Regions from separate parts of the Homo sapiens genome. Here all the other regions are linked to region 3. The links come from fine-mapping of genetic effects on gene expression. A gene starts in region 3. Each other region holds a variant in brackets. All regions are shown on one strand. Distances are from middle to middle.

Evidence for each region.
Region 1: its variant is fine-mapped to the expression of CREB1 in whole blood (INTERVAL, PIP 0.98).
Region 2: its variant is fine-mapped to the expression of CREB1 in whole blood (INTERVAL, PIP above 0.99).

The regions. Positions count from the first base shown.
Region 1 is chr2:207,451,716-207,459,899 of GRCh38, forward strand. No RefSeq gene overlaps it. Among named protein-coding and RNA genes, the nearest start is that of CREB1, 74 kb to the right of the region's middle. The variant C/CA (reference allele first, on the strand shown) is at 4,008.
Region 2 is chr2:207,494,577-207,502,760 of GRCh38, forward strand. No RefSeq gene overlaps it. Among named protein-coding and RNA genes, the nearest start is that of CREB1, 31 kb to the right of the region's middle. The variant T/G (reference allele first, on the strand shown) is at 4,610.
Region 3 is chr2:207,526,509-207,534,692 of GRCh38, forward strand. CREB1 (cAMP responsive element binding protein 1) reads left to right here and starts at 3,454. Exons shown (of 8, transcript NM_004379.5): 1 at 3,454-3,626. It overlaps LOC124907970 (a long non-coding RNA gene), which reads right to left and starts at 3,089. Exons shown (of 3, transcript XR_007088060.1): 1 at 2,928-3,089; 2 at 2,009-2,105. RefSeq lists silencers at 2,823-3,002, 3,673-3,802, 3,833-3,882, 4,593-4,762 and enhancers at 3,023-3,222, 3,483-3,582, 5,171-5,672, 5,673-6,172.

The DNA.
Region 1 (8,184 bases), 75 kb before region 3:
ACCAAAATCTATGGATGCTCAAGTCCCTGATATAAAATAAGATAGTAGTTTCATATAACCTATGCACATCTTCCCATATTCTTAAAATCATCTCTAGATTACTTATAATACCTAATATAATGTAAATGCTATGTAAGTAGTTGTTATACTATATTGTTTAGGGAAAAATGACAAGAAAAATGTCTGTCCATGTTCAGTAGAGATGCGTGCTCTTTAAAACAATATTTTCAATTCCTGATTGGTTGAATCCACAGAAGCAGAATCCATAGATACAGAAGAGATGACTGTCAGGGAGATGACTGTCATCAAAAAGAAAAAAACTGAACTGTTTAGAAATTGGTCAAATAAAAAATCTTAAAAGCCTTTTCCACAAAAAAACTAGTAAAAAAGCTTTAGCCAGGCCAACTGTGGTGGCTCACACCTGTAATCCCAGCACTTTGGGAGGCCAGGGCGGGCCAATCATGAGGTCAGGAGATCGAGACCATCCTGGCTAACACAGTGAAACCCCGTCTCTACTAAAAATACAAAAAATTGGCCGGGCGTGGTGGCACACGCCTGTAGACCGAGCTACTAGGGAGGCTGAGGCAGGAGAATCGCTTGAACCTGGGAGGCGGAGGTTGCAGTGAGCCGAGATTGCACCACTGCACTCCAGCCTGGGTGACAGAGCTAGACGCCAACTCAAAAAAAAAAAAAAAAAGCTTTAGCCATCTGAGCAGATAATCTTAACTTGTATCATTTATCAGGTCTAGCTAGTGAGTCTTGAATTATCAGACTTGGTGCAAGGCTAAAAGTGTTAGAGTAAAAGATGTAAGATCTGCTTCTATCTGTATGTTTATGTCATTAAATATAATACAGACATATATTTTTGCCTGCGTTTGCTGGCCAGACAGGTGTATTGTCTCTGCTAGATGGTTAAGGTCATAAAATTATAAACGCAACCTTCAAACAGAATACACAGTAAAAATGAATTCCTGAATTGCTTGATGCACATCAGTCACGGAGAAAAAAAAGAGGAAAGAACCATGTTTAACTTTCTTGTTTCTTTGCTTCTATGATATTTTGCTTGCCTGATTTGTCAACAACAAAAACAACTTGAGACAGAGGTTAGCTTTGTTTGATGTCTCATAAAATTGTCATGAACAGTTCACATAAAATTGTTAAGAATGAGTGAGTTACTGGCTGGGCGTGGTGGCTCACGCCTGTAATCCCAGCACTTTGGGAGGCCGAGGCTAGCGGATCACAAGGGCAGGAGATCGAGACCATCCTGGCTAACATGGTGAAACCCCGTCTCTACTAAAAATACAAAAAATTAGCTGGGCATGGTGGTGGGCACCTGTAGTCCCAGCTATGCGGGAGGCTGAGGCAGGAGAATGATGTGAACCCGGGAGGCAGAGGTTGCAGGGAGCCAAGATTGCACCACTGCACTCCAGCCTGGATGACAGAGCAAGATTCCGTCTCAAAAAAAAAAAATCAAAAAATAAAATAAAAGCACTTAGTTATTTTAAAAAAAAAAAAAAGAATGAGTGAGTTACCAAATGAACTAAATAAGGTGAACTACATAAGGTGCTGGGACCAATCCTGGAGAAACAGATATGTGACCTTTCCGACACAGCATTCAAAATAGCTGCTTTGAGGAAACTCAAAGAAATTCAAGATAACACAGAGAATGAATTCATAATTCTATCAGATAAACTTAACAAAGAGATTGACATAATTTAAAAGAACCAAGCAGAAATTCTAGAGTTGAAAAATGCAATTGACATACTGAAGAAAGCATCAGAGTATCTTACCAACAGAAATGATCAAATAAAAGAAAGAATTAGTAAGCTTGAAGACAGCCTACACGAAAATGCACAGAGGAGACAAAAGACAAAAATAATAAAAAAGAATGAAGCATGCCTACAAGATCTAGAAAATAGCCTCAAAAGGGCAAATCTAAGAGTAACACGCCACAAGCACACACAACCAAAGCAAAAATGGACAAATGGGACCACATCAACTTAAATAGCTTCTGCACAGCAAAGAAAACACTCAACAAAGTGAAGAAACAGCCAACAAAATGGGATAAAATATTTGCAAACTACCCATCTGACAATGGATTGATAACTAGGATATATAAGGAGCTCAAACAGCTATATAGGCAAAAATTTAACAATCCAATTAAGAAATGGGCAAGGCTGGGCATGGTGGCTCACATCTGTAATCACAGCACTTTGGGAGGCCAAGGCAGGTGGATCGCTTGAGCCCAGGAGTGTGAGACCAGCCTGGGCAACAAAGTGAGACCTAGTCTCTAAAAAAAAATAAAAAAAGAATAGCCAAGCATGGGGGCACACTCCTGTGGTCCCAGTTACACGGAAGGCTGAGACAGAAGGATCACTTGAGTCTGGGAGGTCAAGACTATAGTGAGCTGTGTTTGTGCCACTACACACCAGCCTGGGTGACAGAGTGAGACCCTGTCTCAAAAACTAAATGAATACGTATTTTTAATTGGCCAAAAAAAAAAATTTTTTTTTTGAGATGTAGTTTCGTTCTTGTTGCCCAGGCTGGAGTGCAATGGCACCATTTCAACTCACTGCAACCTCCACCTCCTGGGTTCAAGAGGTTCTCCTGCCTCAGCCTCCCAAGTAGCTGGGATTACAGGCATGTGCCACCATGCCTGGCTAATTTTGTATTTTCAGTAGAGACAGGGCTTCCCACATTGGTCAGGCTGGTCTCAAACTCCCGACCTCAGGTGATCCGCCCGCCTTGACCTCCCAAAGTGCTGGAATTACAGGGGTGAGCCACTGCGCCTGGCCGGGAAAAAAAATTTGAATGGACATTTCCCAGAAGAAGACATACAAATGGCAAACAGGCATATGAAAATGGCTCAACATCATGGATCATCAGGAATATGCAAATCAAAATTACAATTAGATGTCATCTCACTCCAGTTAAAGTGGCTTTTATCCAAAAGACAGGCAACAACAAATGCTGGAGAGGATTTGGGGAAAAGGGAGCCCTTGTATGCTGTTGGTGGGAATATAAATTAGTACAACCACTATGGAAAACAGTTTGGAGGTTTCTCACAAAAGTAAAAATAAAGCTACCATACAATCAGGCAATCCCACTGCTAGGTATATACCCAAAAGGAAGGAAATCAGGATATGTAAGAGATATCTGGGCCGGGCGCGGTGGCTCACGCCTGTAATCCTAGCACTTCGGGAGGCCGAGACGGGCGGATCACGAGGTCAGGAGATCGAGACCATCTTGGCTAACACGGTGAAACCCCGTTTCTACTAAAAATACAAAAAATTAGCCAGGCGTGTTGGCGGGCGCCTGTAGTCCCAGCTACTTGGGAGGCTGAGGCAGGAGAATGGCATGAACCTGGGAGGCGGAGCTTGCAGTGAGCCGAGATCGCGCCACTGCACTCCAACCTGGGAGACACAGCGAGACTCCATCTCAAAAAAAAAAAAAAAGAGATATCTGCACTCCCATGTTTATTGCAGCACTGTTCACAATAGCTAAGATTTGGAAGCAACCTAAGTGTCCCTCAACAGATGAATGGATAAAGAAAATGTAGTACATTTACATGATAGAGTACTATTCAGCCATAAAAAAGAATGAAATCCCGTTATCTGCAACAACATGGATGGAATTGGGACTCATTGTATTAAGTGAAATAAGCCAGGCACAGAAAGACAAACTCATGTTCTCGCTTATTTGTGGGAGCTAAAAATTAAAATGATTGGCCAGGTGTGGTGGCTCACGCCTGTAATCTCAGCACTTTGGGAGGCTGAGGCAGGTGGATCACAAGGTCAGGAGATCGAGACCATCCTGGTTAACACGGTGAAACCCCGTCTGTACTAAAAATGCAAAAAATTAGCTGGGCGTGGTGGCAGGCACCTGTAGTCCCAGCTACTCCGGAGGCTGAGGCAGGAGAATGGTGTGAACCCAGGAGGCGGAGGTTGCAGTGAGCCGAGATTGTGCCACTGCACTCCAGCCTGGGCAACAGAGCGAGAGTCTGTCCC[C/CA]AAAAAAAAAAAAAAAAAAATTAAAACGATTGTTGAACTCATGGAGATAGAGAGTACAAGGATGATTACCAGAGGTTGGGAAGGGGGCTTGTAGGGAAGTGGGAAGAGTTAATGGGTACAAAAAAAGTTAGAAAAAATTAGTAAGACCTAGTATTTGATAACAGGGTGACTGTAGTCAATAATAATTTAATTGTACATTTTTAAATAACTAAAAGCATAATTGGATTGTAACATAAAGGATAAATGCTTCAGGGGAAAGCTATCCCATTTTACATGATGTAATTATTATGGATTGCATGCCTATATCAAAGTATCTAATGTATCCCATAAATATAGACACCTACATACCCACAAAAATTAAAACTTGAAACTTAAAAAAAAGAATGAGTGAATTAGATGAATATAAGTAGGATAATAGTTTATAAGCAAAGTTTTTCAATAACAATTATGTTTTAGAAAATATGTCTAGTTAAAAATAGTTTTAAAATCTTTTTGGTAACTTGAAACCTTAAAATGAAATTAAGTAATAGATACTTATTAAATATCTGGGTCACTTCTAAGTAAGTTAAAAATATTGAAACACTAATTACTAGGCACAAGTTTATGTACTTTGGCATCTTGTTTTTATATAGTACAGAGAAGCTAAATAGATTGAAGTTGGTTAAAAACATGAAAAATTGCTTCTAGAAATTATGAAATGATGAATGCTGTTATAAAAGAGTTTATAATGCTTGCTAGTTTTCACTAGAAATTAAGGTTACTGGCCAGGCATGGTGGCTCACGCCTGTAATCCCAGCACTTGGGGAGGCCAAGGCCGGCTGATCACGAGGTCAGGAGTTTGAGACCAGCCTAGCCAACATACTAAAACCCCGTCTCTACTAAAAATACAAAAATTAACCGGGCATGGTGGCGCGTGCCTGTAGTCCTAGCTACTTGGGAGGCTGAGGCAGGAGAATCACTTGAACCTGGGAGGCGGAGGTTGCAGCGAGCTGAGATCACGCCACTGCACACCAGCCCAGGCGACAGTGCAAGACTCAGTCTCAAAAAAAAAAAAAAAAAAAAGAAAAAAAGAAATAAGGTTACTAAGAGTTAAACGTTATAATTAACATATGTAATTAAACTGCCAGAAAATATGAGGGAAAACTTTCTTTGCTTAGAAATAAGATGCATTTGATAAGGAAAGTTATGTAAATGACACATTTTTGTTTTTTAAAAAGGCTGAATTTTTTTTAAGTTTTAAATGATTTATGGAAATGTTATCTTTTGTGATCAAAACTAAGATTGGATGAATTTATTAAAAGATTTTATTTAAAATTAGCTTTAGTATTAATAGTACGCTAATGCAAAAGTGGAATTTGGTCTTCTCTGTTAAAGTAACAAAGTTTTCTAGAAGTATTGGTCTGAGAATGTGAAGGTTTTTTTTTTCTCCTTTTCAGTAACTGACCTAGAAAACAAAGATTTTGTGTTTTATCAAGATCATTTTTGGGCTTCATGCTGTATTTTATTAGGTCTTTGATTACATTTTATTCACAACTATGCAACCTTTTGTATTTGCCTTTAAAATCTTTTGTTGTCGGCCAGGTGCAGTGGCTCACCTGTAATCCCAGTGCTTTGGGAGGACAAGGCAGGAGGACTGCTTTAGCCCAGGAGTTCAAGACCAGCCTGGGAAATACTGCAAAACTCCATCTCTACAAAAATAAAAATAAAAATAAATGAGCCAGGTGCAGTGGCGCATGCCTGCAGTCCCAGCTACTCAGAAGGCCAAGGTGAGAGGATTGCTTTAAGCCAGGAGTTTGAGGCTGCAGTGAGCTATGCTTGTGCCACTACACTCCAGCCTGGGTGACAGAGTGAGACCCTGTCTCTAAAAAAATGTTAAAAAAAATAGAAAATTGTTTTTCTATTTAAAACTGTCACTTTAATTAGATAGCCAATATCATATTTAATTTTTTTAAACCTTTTGACATTTTGACATACTTCCCAAAATCAAATTCTAAATTAAGTCTTTTTGACCTTGAACTTACTTTGAGATTTACCAGTTAGGCCTCTTGAAAGCTACAAAATATGTGTTTTTCTCACCTTGTAAAAGAAAGATATTAAAATAATTGGGCTTACATATATTTGATGCATTAAATTATATAGTAAGTGTGGTCAAATAATGAGTAATGCTAAACCTAGAGTTATACTTAGGAGCGTATTATTGATATGAAAATGTGAGATTTTTAAAAGTCTAATGTTATCAGTAACAATTCTGGCAATTATGTTAAAATGTTGTATCCACAGAAATAACTAAATTTCCTTGTCAACTGCTGACTATAATGAACTCTCATCAGATTTTTAACCATGGCCATATTAAGTCTTTGTCATCTACAGGCCATTACTGTTTTGATTTTTGTCTAAAAGTATTGGCAATCAGCGATAGTCCAAAACTGCTTTTCTTCGAAAAGATTCATAGAAAAGACTTTGACAAATACCCTTGAATACAGGTTTCTAATAACCATAAGATCATACCATTGGACTGTGTGAGAATTTTCAGAACTCTAATGAAGAAATGAATGGCTTCATGAAACTGCCAAGCAAGATCAAGCAGATCAAGAATTAATTACGTGAAACTGAACTGATGAAGGTAATGTTTTCATGACTTTTAATTTGAAATTTTTAAATTTGAAATTTGGTTCTTATTGTAAATGTTTCCTTTTACAGATTTAAAGAAACTATTTCTCTTAAGCTTTCTAGAGCTTGCAGAGATCTGGTAGCATATACTTTTGTGAACAGAATTGGAACAATTACTTTTTCTTCCTACCTGATCCTGCTAGGACTCAGAAACTATTTGTGAGTATTCTTATTTTTATGGCAATATAATTATTTATACTAGTTTAATAAAAATCTGTTCTCCTTGTAACAGGGCACAATTGGAAATACTGGTTATGTTACCTTACCAAGGCTTTGACTGGAATATTCTATTTTCAAATATGACAGACAACTTTAAAGAACTAAGGTTGACTTTATGGAGCCAATAAAGCCCGCGCTTGGATAAACTGGCCTGGTACTTTGAAAGCATCGTTCATATGGTTGCCTTAGAGGTAGGTAAAGAATGTCACCTCCTGGCAGGACCAGGAACCTCAGGATATTTTGGGGACCTAAAGCAGAGAGGAATTCAGCAAAATCTAGAAGTACTTCAGGTGAATTTTTTTTTTCTTTTTTTTTTTTGAGACGAAGTCTCGCTCTTCTCCCCCAGGCTGGAGTGCAATGGCACAGTCTCGGCTCACTGCAAGCTCCGCCTCCCAGGTTCAAGCAATTCTCCTGCCTCAGCCTCCCGAGTAGCTGGGATTACAGGCGCCCGCCACCACGCCCAGCTAATTTTTGTATTTTTAGTAGAGACGGGGTTTCACCATGTTGGCCAGGCTGGTCTCAAACTCCTGACCTTGTGATCCGCCCGCCTCAGCCTCCCAAAGTGCTGAGATTACAGGCATGAGCCACCATGCCCAGCCACTTCAGGTGAATTTTAATGGTGAATCTTAAGCTTGGCCTCCTGGCCTCAAGAGGCTTTTCAATGTCTAATCTGAGATTCCTTATAAAACGTTCCAGCAAAGCAAATTTAAAGACAGCCTATGTGGCCAATCACTACTCTTGCTGAACTTGTATAAATAATCAGGTCAAGTTTAATGAAACTAAATTTATTTTGCAAACAAATTAGTTTTACTTTGATTATCTTTGATAGAGATGAAGGTGACTATAGAGAGAAAAATTTTGTTTCAGAAGAAAAGTATAGTGCACCCAGTATTAGATGCTAGCTCATTGTTTTTGAGAGTTTGTTATCCACCTGAAATCTGTGCTGGATCCTGAATTTCTCTAGTTTCTTCCAATATCTGGCTATGACTCACCAAACGAATATTTCCAATTTTTATCCCAGTCTTCTGGCTTGGAATCACTAAAAATTAAAGCACCCCTTTTTCTGAAGCCCTGCAAGGTGAAATTAGATGGCTTGATACAGACTTCAGAGAAATCACTACAACAGCTATGTAGAGATAACCTTCGGGCCTGCTGCTATATGGACTACTCAGAAAGCTCACTGGAACACCTGAAGCAAACTTTTGTAAACAAGGAAAATCTGTCAGATCATCACTGCCTGCCCCTGCTCCAGCTGGAAAGGCTTTAAGTCCAGCATCTAGAAATCTTG
Region 2 (8,184 bases), 32 kb before region 3:
TTATTGAAGTAAGAGATTAGAAAGAGCTGATGCTTTCGTCTTACTATCTTTCTAAAGTGACAGTGAATTAACAAATTAAGAAAAATGTTTTAAACAGAAAACAATACAAGAGGTGGCTGGAAACTCTTTTTTTTCTACAGACTTGCAGGTATATATGTATTTGTGGATGCGCATAATGTGGCCTATTAGGTCTTTGTAACTGATTGGGACTTCAGTACGTTTGCCTGTCAACAAACAGGAAAAATAATGAACTTTGAAGAGCTCGGCTTATCTTTCCTTTTCTACTCTCTTCCTACATTTTAACTTTAAAATTAAATTGTTAAGTTATAGGTATTTATCTAATAACTGAGAGGTACTCTCGAAAGAACACATTTTACAAAATATGAATTAATCAGGATAAGAGAGGCTATGCTACATTAAAACATGGGCCAGTGAGGGCCAGTGGGGGGTCTCATGCCTATAATCTCAGCACTTCAGGAGGCAAAGGCGTCCCAAAGTGGATCACTTGAGGCCAGGAGTTTGAGACCAGCCTGGCAACATAGTGAAACCCCAACTCTACTAAAAATACAAAAATTAGCCGGCCATGGTGGCACATGCCTGTAGTCCCAGTTCCTCAGGAGGCTGAGGCAGGAGAATCGCTTGAACCTGGGAGGCAGATGTTGCAGTGAGCCGAGATCGTGCCACTGCACTCCAGCCTGGGCGACAAAGCAAGACTCCATCTCACAAAAAAAAAAAGCCAGTGACTTAACAAAGTTGAATTTCTTGCTCACACAGAGTGCTATGGCAATTGGGCACTCCCTAGCATCTGTCCTCTCTTTGGGAACTCAATAAACCAGGAGGCATCCATCCAATGGTTTCACTGTCTCAGCACATGGCTTTCCAAATCATAGCTGCAGAGAAAGACAGGAGCTGAAGGATTGCACACAGGCTTGTAAATGGTTTGGTTCAGATATGGCACGTGTCACTCCTCTTGTAGCTCAATCACCAGCATCGAACTCAACCAAGAATGACTGGAAAGGTATGGATGCACACACATCTCTGGTGGGTAAAGAATGTCTCTGACACAGAGCATTATATACATGCTTCCTTACTGCTACTACCACTAATGCTAATACTGTATGTTTATCACAACCAAAGTTTGTTTGCTTTTTTCATCTTTTTCAAGAAACAAACTTTTGGTTTTATTAACCAATTCTATGAAGGTTGTTTTGCTTCATTAATTTTGCTTTTATCTTTAATCTGCTGTAAATTCATTTACTCTTTGGGATTTATTTTTGTTGTTCCTTTTCTATCTTGAGTTGAGTACTTTATTTTGAATCTTTCTCATTTTCTAATAAAAAATCAAGCCTACAAATTTCCTTCTGGATACCTCTTTGGCTGCTTTCCGCAGTTTTGATATATACTACTTTCATTGTGGTTTCATTCTGAACATTTCACAATTTTATTTTGACTGTCTCTTTATCCAGAGAATTACATAGGGATGTGCTTTGTTAGTCTCCAAATGTACAGATATGGAGCCACTCTCTTTTGTTGTTAATTTATTATTGTATTACATCATAATCAAACAACATATCACCTATATGAAATCAAACATTTTTTAACTTGTTGAGTTTTTTTTCTGGCAGACTACTGCTATAGATCTTTTTGTAAAAGCTCCTTATATAATTCTTTACCTTGCTTTAGAGAGTGAGAAAATTTTAGAAAAAAACAAGCCACAAAAGAAATCTCAGCAAGTTAAAAAATGTTTGATTTCATATGGGTGATACCATGTTGTTTGATTATGATATGATACAATAATAAATTAACAACAAAAGAGAGTGGCTCCATATTTATTCAGATACCACTTTGGCTGCTTTCCACAGTTTTAATATATACTACTTTCATTGTGATTTCTTTCTGAACATTTCACAATTTTACTATGACAGATCCAGGTATTGTATTTTTATCTGCCACATAATGCCCACCACAGCAATGACGCTCACAGACACCACTGGTTGAAAACCTCAGCTCTATTTTGTAGATTTGGAGTTTAAGGAATTGGGTGATTGGGAGAAGACTGCAGGAAAAGCTGACTGGGTGGTAGTGGACATGAAGAATTTTCTTGGTTTATATTAAGTAACCATATCTTGTTCATCATTATATCTTGCTTATCTTTGTATGCACAATGCCTGGCACAGAGAAGGCAATCAATAAATGTAGATGACTAGATGAATTAGTATTTACCTAGGCAACTATGAGCATCACATGATAGCTAATGGCATGTAACAGAAATAAAATCCTATTTCATCTTCTGAAATATCAACAGCTTGTGAGAAGGTGTCACAACATTTACGTTACTTTTGTATCTTCCCCCATGCACAATGTTAAGCACAAAGTAAATACTTTTTTTTTTTTTTGAAATAGAGACTCACTCTGTTGACCAGCCTGGAGTGCAGTGGCACGATCTCAGCTCAATGCAACCTTCACCTCCTGGGTTCAAACAGATTCTCATGTCTCAGCCTCCCGAGTAGCTGGGAGTACAGGCATGTGCCACCACGTCCGGCTAATTATTACGTAATTTTTAGTAGAGACGGGGGTTTCCCCATGTTGGCCAGGCTGGTCTCGAACTCCTGGCCTCAAGTGATCCACCAGCCTCGGCCTCCCAAAGTGCTGTGATTACAGACATCAGCCACCACATCTGGCGGCAAATACTTCTTTTTTTTTTTTTTTCTTCTGAGACAGAGTCACTGTCGCCCCGGCTAGAGTGCAGTGGCGTGATCTCAGCTCACTGCAACCTCCATCTCCCGGGTTCAAGTGATTCTCCTGCTTCAGCCTCCCAAGTAGCTGGGATTACAGGTGCCCACCACCACACCCAGCTAATTTTTGTATTTTTAGTAGAGACGGGGTTTCACCATGTTGGCCAGGCTAGTCTCGAACTCCTGACCTCAGGTGATCCACCCGCCTTAACCTCCCAAAGTGCTGGGATTATAGGCGTGAGCCACTGCACCCAGCTGGAAAATACTTCTTAAATGCAATTTATAAGCATGTGTATTAGTTTCCTATTGCTGGTATAACAAATTACTACAAACTTAGTGGCTTAAAACAACACAGATGTGTTGTCTTACAGTTCTAGAGGTTAGTTCTAAATAGGTCTCACTGAGCTAAATCCACGGTGTCAGCAGAGCTGTGTTCTTTCCTAGAGCTTCTAGGGGAGAATCTGTTTTCCTGCCTTTTCCAGCATCTAGCAGCTGCCACATTCCTTGGCTTGGGACCTTGTTCCATCTTCAAATTCATCAGTAGCAGTTCTTTCTCACAATGCTATTTCTCTGTTTCTAACTCTTTTGCCTCTACTTTATCCACTTAAGGACTCAGGATAATCTTCTTATTTTAAGGCCAGCTGATAAACAATTTTAAGTATATCTGCAACCTTAATTCCCCTTGCCATGTAACATAACATTTACAGGCTCTGGTTGTGAGGACATGGACACCTTTTGGGGGTCATTATTGTGTCTATCATAGCACGTAAAACAAAGAAAAAGGACAAATAGAAGAAGAAAAGACAGTGAATGGACACAATGGAGTGACAGAGTTAATAACAGTAATAACACTAGAGATATAAGGATTGGTGCATGGACTACAAGATTCTCGAACAAGGCCAAAAAAAGGATCTGTCCCACACTATTAGCTAAATTCAAGCACTTGCACACACGTGAGTGCACAAACACACACACACAAAGTAATATTCTGGTTAGCTGATGTCACTGCTGGGATATTACTGTTTACTAATAATAAAACAAACTACACAAGGCATGAATGGCACGTGTGTTATTTATAGTTTTTGTAGAAGAAGTTCTCAAATTCCTTTCTTCCTGAAAAAGGATTATTTTCTTACCCTTTGCATTCTAGCTCACCTCTAACATGTCCAGAAATTTCTAGGAAGGCAGAGGAAAGACTCTACATTTGCCTCCCCAATTGAAGCCATCACCACGCAAGGGCTGAAGGTGATTGTCAAAGTGCCCTCCTGAGACTGGACACCGCTGGCCTAAATTAGAGGAGGAGGCTGGTAGACACCGCCCCCTCGTGCAGAGGGGCAGAGAAGCCATTCCCCATGGCTCCCCACCTGTCTTGCTGGAGGAAATTTCTTGGCTAAAAGTCCATGGAAAATGGTTGTTTGGAAAGTGAAGTTCCCTAGAGCTTTGAGAATCAACTTTTTTTTTTTTTTTTTTTTGAGATGGAGTTTCACTCTTGTTGCCCAGGCTGGAGTGCAATGGAGCAATCTCGGCTCAGTGCAACCTCCGCCTCCTGGGTTCAAGCGAGAATCAACTTTTTTCATCATTTTAAACCTACTTATTGGGAAATCTCTCTAAAATATATTACAGAAAAAGAATAATCATACCGAGTCAATACTGCATGAAAAGATATAATAGCATGGAATAAATTATTCATTTCCTTGCCTCTTAGAGAGTACTCTGAGTGCAATTTTAACCATTCTTTCTGGCTGTGAACCTCAGAGTTTTTTACAGTTCTGTAGAGCAGATAGAATGCCAATCTTCTTTGCATATTTATGTCATTTTTAAAAGGTTTTTGTTGCTGTTGTTTTATTTTGTTTTGTTTTTCCCTCCTCTGTGGT[T/G]GTCAGTGGTCACTTTTTAAATTTTGGTTTTGTCAGTGTGACTTCCTTTAACAACTTCCTTCCTCTTCTCCTTTGCTATGGAAAATAGTAACTAGGATACCAATCTAGTTAAACTTGTAAGTAAAATGAGGTAAAGTGAGATCCTAATAAAGATACAAGATACTTACAAGTGAAGTGTATGAGATTTAAGACAAAACCAGAGTGACGCTGCAGGCAGGACTGCCCATTCCATCTGGAATGCATGACTGTCTGTCATCTATTTGGCTACTTAGAAACTATTTTTACCTCTTCTCTATTTTTGTTCTGAATAGGTTAGTGTGAAATAATTGTTTTAGCAAGATGAAATATTGCTATATTTTTTAATGTGCCAAAGTCTTCTTTTTTTTTTTTTTTTTTTTTTGAGATGGTGGTCTCACTCTGTTGCCCAGGCTGGAGTCCAGTGGCACAATTTCGGCTGACTGCAGCCTCGACTTCTCAGGCTCAAGCAGCCTTCCAGTTCAGCCTCCCAAGTAGCTGAGACCACAGGTGCACACCACCATGCCCAGCTAAGTTTTAAATAATTTCTAGAGACAAGAGCTTGCTATGTTGCCTAGGCTGGTCTTGAACTCCTGGACTCAAGTGATCCTTCCACCTCGGCCTCCCAAAATGCTGGGATTATAGGAATTAGCCACCTCACCCAGCCAAAGTCTTGAAATGGGATAAAACAGGAGTCCTCAGTCCTGGTATTGACCCCCTCACCAAAGTCACGCCCCTTTCGATGTTTATAGCAACTTGATAAAAACCAGGGCTGTGAATTAAATGTCCATTAACAAAAGAATAGGCTCACTTTTATAACAAAATACTATGCAGCTATGAACTATGTATACTACATATTTATAAACACTAAGTGGAAATTATGTTCCTTCTTATATTGTTTAGTTAGAGGAGTGAGTATTGACAGAAAAATGCTTCCCTCTTTGATCCCCCAGGTTGACAGTTCTGAGATGCATTGCACAAGGCCCCCCAGGAGGTCCCAGCAAAATCTAGCACCAGTTACTCACGGCACTGTCCAGCTCAGTAATGAACCTTTCTATTAGCCGCCCCTCTTTCCCTGCTTCCCCCACTCCCCGCCCTGATCCCTGCCCCTACGCCCTGCAGTCACCTCCCCAAGTCAGTGCATACAAGCTTTTGTCTCAGAATTTGCTTTTGAGAGAAGCCACATTAAGAAAGACATTGCTGGCCAGGCCTGGTGGCTCATGCCTGTAATCCCAGCACTTTGGGAGGATCACTTTAACTCAGGAGTTCAAGACCAGCCTGGGCAACATAGCAAGACCTTGTCTCTACTAAAAAAATGTTTTTAATTACCTGGGCATGGTGGTGTGCACTTATAGTCCCAGCAACTAGGGAGGCCAAGACAGGAAGATCACTTGATCCAGGAAGCTGAGGCTGCAGTGAACTGTGATTGCATCACTGCACTCCAGCCTGAACAACAGAGCGAGACCCTGTCTCAGAAAACAAAACAAAAAAAGAAAAAAAGAAAGACATTGTCAAGTGAGGACATGGTGTTTAGAGCTGCCTTATCCATGTGGCAACCAGGGGGCAAGACCTAGAGAGCTTCAGAGAAGCTGACCCAGAATGCAGGCACAACTGAGCCACATAATGACCAACTACCTCTAGATATCTTGTTCTGTGAAAAGAATAAGCCCCTATTGTTTAAGTCACTCTTAATTGGGTTTTCTGTTACTTGCAGCAAAGGTACTTTTTTTTTTTCTTTGAGATGGAGTTTCACTCTTGTTGCCCAGGCTGGAGTGCAATGGCACGATCTCAGCTTACCACAACCTTCGCGCCCTGGATTCAAGCAATTCTCCTGCCTCAGCCTCCTGAGTATCTGGGATTACAGGCATGTGCCACCACGTCCAGCTAATTTTTTATATTTTTAGTAGAGATGGGGTTTCACCATGTTAGCCAGGATGGTCTCGATCTCCCGACCTCAGGTGATCTGCCGCCCGCCTCGGCCTCCCAAAGTGCTGGGATTACAGGCATGAGCCACTGCACCCAGCCCATGATACATGAGGCCAATTGAAGACCTCCTTGGGAATATTTTATGTAGAAAAGAAGGCAGAGGAACAAGCTCTCCGTATGGGGAAGCCTGAGGGTGTCAGCTAGGCAGCTCCTGGTGACCACAGTTCTAGCTTGTGGACAGTGCTGATCTGACAGAAGCAGAGAAAAAAAGAGAGAGAGAGTCCTGTGATTTAAATTCTTCTGGCAGTGAATTCCTCTTTTTGCCTAAGATATTTCACACAGCATTTCTATCACTTGCAAACAAGAGTCCTGCCTAATTTAAGTAAGAGCCATTCTTGTTTTGTTTTGTTTTGTTTTAAAAAAAAAAGTGGGGAAAAAAGTGGGTGCATGAGTGTGAATGTGTCTTCATCTAAGCATAGAAAAAATCGGAATGGATACACTTAACAGTTGACAGTAGTTATTTCTGGGGAGAGTCAGAATAGAGGGGAGTAAGGAGGACATATGTATCATTTGTACTTTGTAAACTTCTCAATGTTTAAACTTGTTATAATGAGCTTGTATCATTTTGCAATTTTAAAAGTCTAAAAACTACAGAAACTCTGAGATAATAAATGTGTGTTATTTGATGCTGTTAAGTTTGAGGTATACAGCAACGGAAAATACACATAGGGAATCACTGAAAACTTGACAACCACTGCTTGCAAACCACCCAACAAACCTCAGATAGACAACCACAGGTCCCAATGCCCACATAAAACCAGTAACAATTTGCTGAGTGAAGGACTGATGCTGGGAAGTTGTATCCAACTGGCCTGTGACCACGGCCCCACGTGCACAGATAATTTCCCCTAAAATCCAACCCAAGTAAGCCTATGACGTAAATTTAAAAACAAAACCTAAACCAGCAATCTTGCTCTGCAACTGCAGCTTCAAAACAAGCTTATCCACTTGCCCCTTTCCAACCCAATACATTTCTAGAGAGAAAAATCTAGAGTTGCCACAGGTCAATGAGTCTGTATAAAAAGCCTAAATGCTAAAGGAAGCAGGAAATATGGGGTACCATTCTACGCACACAAGCTGATGGGATGGAACCAGGACCAGAGAGAATGGGGTTATGGGAAATGGATACAGAGGCTGGCTCAGCCATGAGCCACTTGGTAGATAGGTCAAAGCACATAATCATAAGGACATGACAATCTCAGGGTGGAGATGACGTTGGCAAGTGGAGTGCAAACAGCTAAAAGGAAAGCAGGTGACAGTTCTGAGTGGTGCTAGCAGAACCCGAAATGAAAGGTGGAGTGTGCCAGGAACAGCAAGAGAGGGGACTGGCAAAATCCTGTGTGGGGCTAGAGAATTGGGAGGCAGCATCCATTTACAGGGAAGACCCAGATTCTGGGCAGGGATACTGAGGCAAAAATTCAGGCTTATGAATAGTAAAAGCTACATGGCATACTTACTACATGTCTACATGCCAAGTGCTTTAAACTATATTTCACTGAATTCTGCCAAAAACCCCATGAGGAGGGAACTTTTATCATCTCCATTTTTCAGATGAAGAAACTAAGGCAGACAGA
Region 3 (8,184 bases):
TTTCCTAACATTGTTCCAAGTATACTTCACATGTATTATGTCACGTAATCATTACAATAACACTATGAGGTGCTATTATCATCTTTATTTTACAGATGGGAAAACTGAGGCACAAGAGTGAACAATTTGCCCAAAGTCATTAGCTAATAAGTGGCTGAGCCAGTGCAATGAATTCACCCCCACCCCTGTCTCCTGCAAATTCGTATTTTTGAAATCTTCACCCTCAATGTGATGGTATTAGGAGATGAGGCCTTTGGGAGGTAAACCCCTTGTGAATGGGATTAGTGCCTTATAAAAGCAACCCGAGAGCTCTTGCTCTCTTTCTGCATTGTGAGGTAAAGGGAAAAAACAGCCATCTACAACCCTGAAGAGGGCCTTCACCAGAACCTGACCATGTTGGCAGCCTGATTTCAGATATCCAGCCTCCAGAGCTATGAGAAATACATTTCTGTTGTTTATAAGCCACCAGTCTATATGGTACTTTACTACGGCAACCTGAACTCACTGAGAGCCAGGATTTGAATTCAAATGTTGAGAAAACTTTGCCCGGGACCACTCAGAAATTCACTATTTATTCGATAAATACCTAACAAGTACCACTATATTCTAGACATTGTGCTGTTGCTAGGGAGAGGAAAAGCTGGTAGTGAACAAGACAGACGTGGTCCTTACCTGCACAATTACATGGACACTAAACAAATAATGAGAAGTAGGAATTGGAAAAGAAAGTGATAAGTTACAGTTAAGTAGGAGGAATGGGTGACAGAAAAAAATTCCAGGGGAAGGGAAGGGCATGTGTAAATGCCCTGAAGTGAGAGCCTACAGTAGGGAATAAAAAGAGGAGAGCCTGGAAAAAATTAAAATACTATGGCAGGAGTGCAGGCAGCTAGGGGGACAGATGGAGAGGCTGGAGAGAAAGACAAGTACAGATAATGGAGCTTAGACAATGTGTGGTAAGCAAAGGGAGACCACTGGAGGAATTTAAGCAGGTCAATGATCAGATTTATATTTAAAAAATTACTCTGGCAGCAGTATGGCAAATGTATTGGAACGAGGCAAGAGCAGTTTTGGAGGACCTGAATGGGTTACTGTGGGACTTCAAGCAAGAGGCAACAGTGGTTTAGACTAGAATGGGAATGAAAAAATGGTCATGGGAACAGAGAGAGGTCACAAATCCAATTTTCCAGGGAGCAGACAGATGTAGGTGATTCTGCTGTGTGTTGGAGGTGTGCTAGGTTTCTGGCATGAACTGGGTAGATGTTAAGATACCCTTTACTGAACCAGGGACTATGGGAGGAGCGTTTTGAAGGAATTATGATATACGGGTTGAGTTTGAAATGCCCTAAGTCATCCAAATGAAAGTGTACCAAAGGCAGTATGCTGGGAACTATGAATGTAGGATTCCAGAGCAAGATCTAGGCTTGAGTTATGGATTGAAGAGTCTTTGACAGAGGGTATTTGATGCTGCTGGGAGAGCATAAGACCACCTAGGAAAGTGTATGGGGAGACTCAGTAAGAGGGCCAGGGTTCAGCTCAGCATGATTCCAATGTGTAAGAGGTAGATCAAGGAGGAGCTGGTTGTTAAAGAGCAAACTCAGGTAGGGAGGAAACCTGGGACATAAGACCAGAGGGAAGAGGGTATTTGGAAGCAACTGTGGTCAATCGCGTCAAATACTGGGATGAGGGCTTGTAAAATGAGGACTGAAAATGATCCGCTGCATTTACAGTCATGAAGCTTGTCTGTGGACAATTCAGAGCCACTTCAGGTGAGCGGTGGGGACACTGGAGAGGGCTGGGAGGTGGGACATGAAAGACTGTCCATGGGGTAAGAGACAGCTGCAGTTGTTGGAGAGCAATTTAGGGAGAAGAGAAATCTTTTTAAAGAATTGAAAGACTTAAGCATGTTTAAATACCAGTAAGAAAGAGCCGGTAGAGAAGGAAAGGTTGAGAGTAACAGAAGGAAAGGAGACTCGTTAAGGGCAAAGTCCATAAGAAAACAGTAGGGTACCTGGAGTACCAGGAAGGACAACTCTTTCTTTACAAGAGAAGTGAGTCATGGGCGGAGTCCAGAATCGAACCCTCTCTGCTTCCTAAAGACACGTCTCCTTTAAAGGACAGAAAAAGAATGATTAAGACTTGAGGCCGGGCGCGGTGGCTCATACGTGTAACCCCACCACTTTAGGAGGCCGAGGCGGGTGGATTACCTGAGGTCAGGAGTTCCATACCAGCCTGGCCAACATGGTGAAACCCCGTCTCTACTAACAACACAAAAATTAGCCAGGTGTGGTGGCAGGTGCCTGTAATCCCAGCTACTAGGGAGGCTGAGGCAGGAGAATCGCTCGAAACCGGGAGGCGGAGGTTGCAGTGAGCCGAGATCGTGCCACTGCACTCCAGCCTGGGCGACAAGGGCTAGACTCCGTCTCATTAAAAAAAAAAAAAAAAAAAAAAAGACTTGAAACCCCAAGGAGAGGGCTGCAGAGTTCACTATCAAGGAGAATGGGGACCTAGTGGTGCCGTCCTGAGAGACCTCTGAAAGAACAATTCAGTAGTTTCCAGCCACGGAAGTCCCCCTGCTGGGTTTAGGGTGCAGTGGGTGCGAATCCCTGCTGTAGAAAACAGGCTGAGGAAAGAAAGCGACACAGGATGTTGTCTGGAGAAAGGCGGGGAGGTAGGATGGGGCATATTTCCAGGGGTCCGGGCAGGTTGTGTGGCTTGGAGGCCTCCGAGGGCCGTCGACGTCAGCCATGGTCCGGGCAGAGCCCCGCAAGGTGCCACAGTATCGGGGCCAGCGCCCCCCGGAAAAGCATGCTCCGCTGGCGGCCGCCAGGTTTCTCCGCGGAGTCTCGGAAAGGAAAACCCGTCCCCACGGGGGTCCCACGACGCCCCCGGGTCCCAGGCCCCGGGACGTTGGCAGAGGCGCAGCAGACCTTCTTCCCCAGCCCGCACGGCTCCAGCGGTCCGGCCGCGTCCCAGCCCGGGCTGCCCGTCCCCCGTCTCCCGGCGGCGTCGGAAAGTTCCCGGGGCTGGCGGCGGTCAAGAGCAGAGCCAGGGCAGCCGCAGCCGCCTTCTAGCCCGCCGCTCACCGCCGCAGGGGCAGGCCTGAGCGGGGGTTTCCACCAAGTCGCCGACACCCCTCGGGAATTCCCCCACTGGGCCACACACAAACCCCGCTTCCTCCTTCAAATTTCCGCTGCCGGCTTTACCGATGCGAAAGCCGCGGTGGAGTTTAGACCACTCCTCCCGGCGCCGGGCTCAGCCCGCCTTCGCCTTCCCTCTCCCCGCGGAACCCCTTCTCGTCGCCCGAAGAAACCCGAAGGTCTTCGGCAAGTTCCGTCCCCAGCGCGGGGGCGGGGCCGCTCGAGCTGCTCCGGGCCTAGCTCGGCTGTTTCCGTGCGCGGCCGCTGCGCACTCGGCACTGGGCGGCGCTGGCTGGCTCCCTGGCTGCGGCTCCTCAGTCGGCGGCGGCTGCTGCTGCCTGTGGCCCGGGCGGCTGGGAGAAGCGGAGTGTTGGTGAGTGACGCGGCGGAGGTGTAGTTTGACGCGGTGTGTTACGTGGGGGAGAGAATAAAACTCCAGCGAGATCCGGGCCGTGAACGAAAGCAGTGACGGAGGAGCTTGTACCACCGGTAAGAGGAGCAGGAGGAGGAGGCAGGAGCCAGAGAGAGCCGGGGGGACGGAGGGGGGACGGGGAGGCGCCGGACACCCGCGCTTGGGGCCTTCCCCTCGCAGGAGGGGCCGCGGTAAAGATGGAGCCTCCGCCCGAGCCCCACAACATCGCCGCCGCTCGCAGCGAACAAAGAATAATGGCGGCGGACTGGAGCCAGCGGCGGCCGGGGCGGCAGCGACTCTGCCTGCAGCCAGCGGCGGCGCTCATGGCGGGGGGCGGCGGGCGGCGGGCGGCGGGCGGGGTGGGAGCCGGCGGCCGGGGGTGTGTGCGGGCGGCCGGCCGCGGCGAGCTGGCGCCCGCGTTCCCGCCGCCGCCGCCGGGCCGGGCGCGGAGCCGGGAACCCGGAGCCGCCCCGGGGGAGGCCGCCCGCTCGGCCCGGCGCTGCCCCCCGCGCCGCTCGCTCGTCCGGCCCCCGCCGCCCGCCTCGCCCCCGGCCCGACCCGGCCGGGCCTCCGGGGCAGCCGCCGCCTAGGTGCCGGTGGGGGATGGAGGAGGAAGAAGGCGACAGTTGAGGGCAGAGGAGGTGAAGGTGCCTGCTGCCTTCCCGGTGGCTTCGGTGCCTGCCATGCCCGCTTCGCAAGGGGAAGAGCTGCAACGTCTGACCTACTCTTCTCTCCACTCTTTGTGCAATAAAGTTCGAAACCCAAGGTTTCCTCTCGTGCTGTATTTTATTCGTGCCCTTTCCCCCCCGCTCCTACACCGTTGAGGAAATGCTGCTTTCTGCCCTGTGTTGCTTAGTTGAGAGATGAGAGCTTGTGCTTTTGGGGGGAATTTTTGACTCCCTCACCCCTTTGCTTTTTTTTTTTTTTTAAAGTCAGTCATGGAAATGCATGCTTTTTGGGAGAAAGGGTGCTAAGAAAAACATTTATAATAACTTTTTAAACTGTTGGGATCTTATAAAAGGGAAGCTGGTGTTTGAAAACAGTTTCGGTTTTAACCCTTTTTAATAAGGTAATCATCACTTGAGATCTATCATTCTGAAACACTTCGTTGGAACGAGTATCAGCCGATGTACTCTTGTTTTACATCATTTCGCGGGGTGCAACCTTGCCAACCGCGTTTGGGTCATCTGGATCTCCCCTCACCCTCCGTCCCACTCCCCCTACCATATTTCCCACGAATTTCTGTGTGAACTTTAATGAGAGATTGATTTAATACTACTACTAAAAATAGACATTAAAGTATCCATTATTTGTCTCATGCAGTAGGTAACCCCCGTCTTGAGATTGACAATTTAAGCCACAAGCTGTATTTTTTCTTCGCCTGTTGGGAAAAGAGGACAGCAGAAAAGTCATTGACACATTAAAAATTAAAAGACAGTTTTTGAAGGACGTGCGGTATGACCTATTTAAGTTTGTAATACCATCTCAAGTTATAATTCTAACCTCAGCTGGCGTCTAACTTCTGAAGGTTTAGTAGAAGATACTTTTGATTGCTGCCTATTGAAATCTTTTACATTTATGGCTCATTTCGTGATTTAAAAGTAAAGCCCCGAACAGTTATTTTAGGTGGTGCAAAAGACGAACAAGTTTGTTTTAAAAATACTTGTCTGTCACTGTATGATTGCATTGTGATTGATACGTACAAACCTTCTGGTTAAGAACAAATATTGATTGGCAGCAGAAGCACTGTCTTATTTTTCTGTATTCTAGTCACTTTTCCAAAACGTGCTTTGCTGTATTGCTTCTCTTTAAAAGACCACATTGGCAATTTGTCATTTCCAAGAAAATTAAGAAGAGGCAATAAAGGCAGGTTTTCTATAAAGATTGGGGAAATGATTTTATTTCCGAGCACTGAAAAAATTATAGTATTGATAATGGTAGCTTACCATTTTTCCTTTATGTTGTTCCGCAAGCCACTATCAGTAGAGTAGAATTTTTTTTCTTGTTAAGAATATAAGTCGGGCGCGGTGGCTGAGGCCTGTAATCCCAGCACTTGGGGGGTCGAGGCGGGCGGATCACTTGAGGTCAGGAGTGCAAGACCAGCCTGGCCAACATGATGAAACCCCATCTCTACTAAAAATACAAAAATTAGCCGGGTGTGGTGGCACGCGCCTGTAATCCCAGCTACTCGGGGGGCTGGGGTTGCAGTGAATTGAGATCGTGCCATGCACTTCAGCCTGGGCGACACAGCAAGACTCCGTCTCAAAGAAAAAAAAAAAAAAGAAAGAATATATGACTCTTCATTTGTGAGATTTTTAAAAAATTGTTCACTGATGGCCGAGTGCGGTGGCTCACATCTGTAATCCCAGCACTTTGGGAAGCCGAGGCAGGCGGCTCACGAGGTCAAGAGATCGAGACCATCCTGGCTAACATGGTGAAACCCCGTCTCTACTAAAAATACAAAAATTAGCTGGGTGTCGTGGCGCGTGCTTGTAATCCCAGCTACTAGGGTAGCTGAGGCAGGAGAATCTCTTGAGCCCAGGAGGTGGAGATTGCAGTGAGCCGAGATCGCGCCACTGCCCTCCAGCCTGGTGACAGCGAGACCCCATCTCAAAAAAAAAAAAGTTTACTGATAAGTTCTTTCTTTAGTCTTGCCCGAGAGATATTTTAAATTGTATTTTTTATTTTTATTTTTATTTATTTGTTTTTTTGAGACGGAGTTTGGCCCTTATTGCCCAGGCTGGAGTGCAGTGGGCTGGTCTCGGCTCACTCACTGCAAGCTCCGCCTCCCGGGTTCAAGCAATTCTCCTGCCCCAGCCCCCCGAGTAGCTGGGATTACAGGTGTGAGCCACCGCGCCCGGCCTGTTTTATTATTTATACATTCATAATTTGTGATTCTTAGCAATTCCAGGTGAAACTTCAAACTTGTATTCATTAATACTTGAACATTCACCTGGAACATGTTACTAAATTGTACTTCTGCACTGTTCCAGCCATGGATAAAAATTACAGCTGGATCTGCTTGAATCTTTTTTTTTTTTTCATGAACACCTACATTTAGAAAGCTAATAAATTACTTGACAGAGTTTGCTTGAAGAATGTTAAAAGAACACTTCTTTGGGAATTTAAAACTTAAGTGTTACCTGTTTTGAATGATTTTTTTTTTGTTTACATAAAGAGCCTGAAGAAACTTAGACACCTGATCCATAAAAATGGCACCTTTTTCTACTTTCTGAAACTCATATTCTTGATTAGGTCTCATTATTAGAAATTTTGGGTTCTTCATAGAGAAGTAGCTTTATTTCTCTCTCATTCTAAGACATTTGGTTTTGTTTGTTTGGATACAGTATGGTTATGGGGTTATAGTAAAACCAAGTATGTCTTCCTCACGTGTTTTTAAATTCTACTTTTTATAACAGAAAATTATTTTTAACCTAATGCTTACAATATATTACCGAAATTTATAATTTCATTTATTCCATAAATAGCTTATCAGATATGAGTTACATAAACTTGTTTACAGCCAGCTTGTGACATAGTTTTGCAAATATCTTGATATATGGTGTAACTTTGATGGCTTCTTTATTGAATAGAGCTCAAATCTAAATTTAAGAATGTAATGAGATGTCAAGATGGAAAAATGCAGGATTTTTTTTTTTCTTACCCATGTGTAAACTCATCTGTACTGCAGTATCACTTGAGACAGCAGTTTATGGTAATTCAAATATTTATTTGGCACTCACTGTGACAGAGAATGTAGTTGAAAGAGCATGAGGTTTGGAATCATAGGCCTAGGTCTGAATCCAAGCATTGCCACTGCTATCCTGTACCCACCCTAAAGGAATTTTGTGTCCTGAAGGAAGTTTCTTAATCTTTCTCAGCCTCAGTTTCCTTATATGTAAAATTAGAATACTACTACTTATTTCATAAGATTGCGAGATAAACATAAAGTACCTTAGGGCTACAACTAATGATAGCTAGTCCCTTAAGCTTTATTTTAACTTCCTACCTGTGGGCCCTTAGGCAAGTTATCTTAACTTCTTAATACCTCACTTTCCTTTCTGATCAGTGTAGAACAACTACCTCAGAATTGTGGGGGTTAACTATAAAGTAATACATACTAAGTCCCAGGCATTGTGCAAGTGTCAAGTGCTCAAGTGTTGACAAGGCTTTTTTCTTTTGTTTTAATTTTTTTTTGAGACGGAGTCTTGCTCTGTTGCCCAGGATGGTGTGCAGTGATGCAGTCTCAGCTCACGGCAACCTCTGCTTCCTGGATTCAAGTGATTCTCCTGCCTCAGCCTCCCTAGTAGCTGGAACTACAGGCATGCACCACCACGCCCGGCTAATTTTTGTGTTTTTAGTAGAGACAGGGTTTCACCATGTTGGTCAGGCTGGTCTTGAATGCCTGGGATTATAGGCGTGAGCCACCACGCCCAGCTGGTCTGTTACTTTTTAAATTATTTATTATTACTATATGTAATACAGTGGGTCAGAAGCTACAACAAATCCAAAGATGAATTACGCTGTCTTATCTCTACCCTCAGGAACTGTTGGGGACACAGTGACTAAGGCAAAATATGTGTCAAAAGAAAGCAGTCAAAGGAAAAAGGGATCACCTTTGGTGAAGTGAGGAGT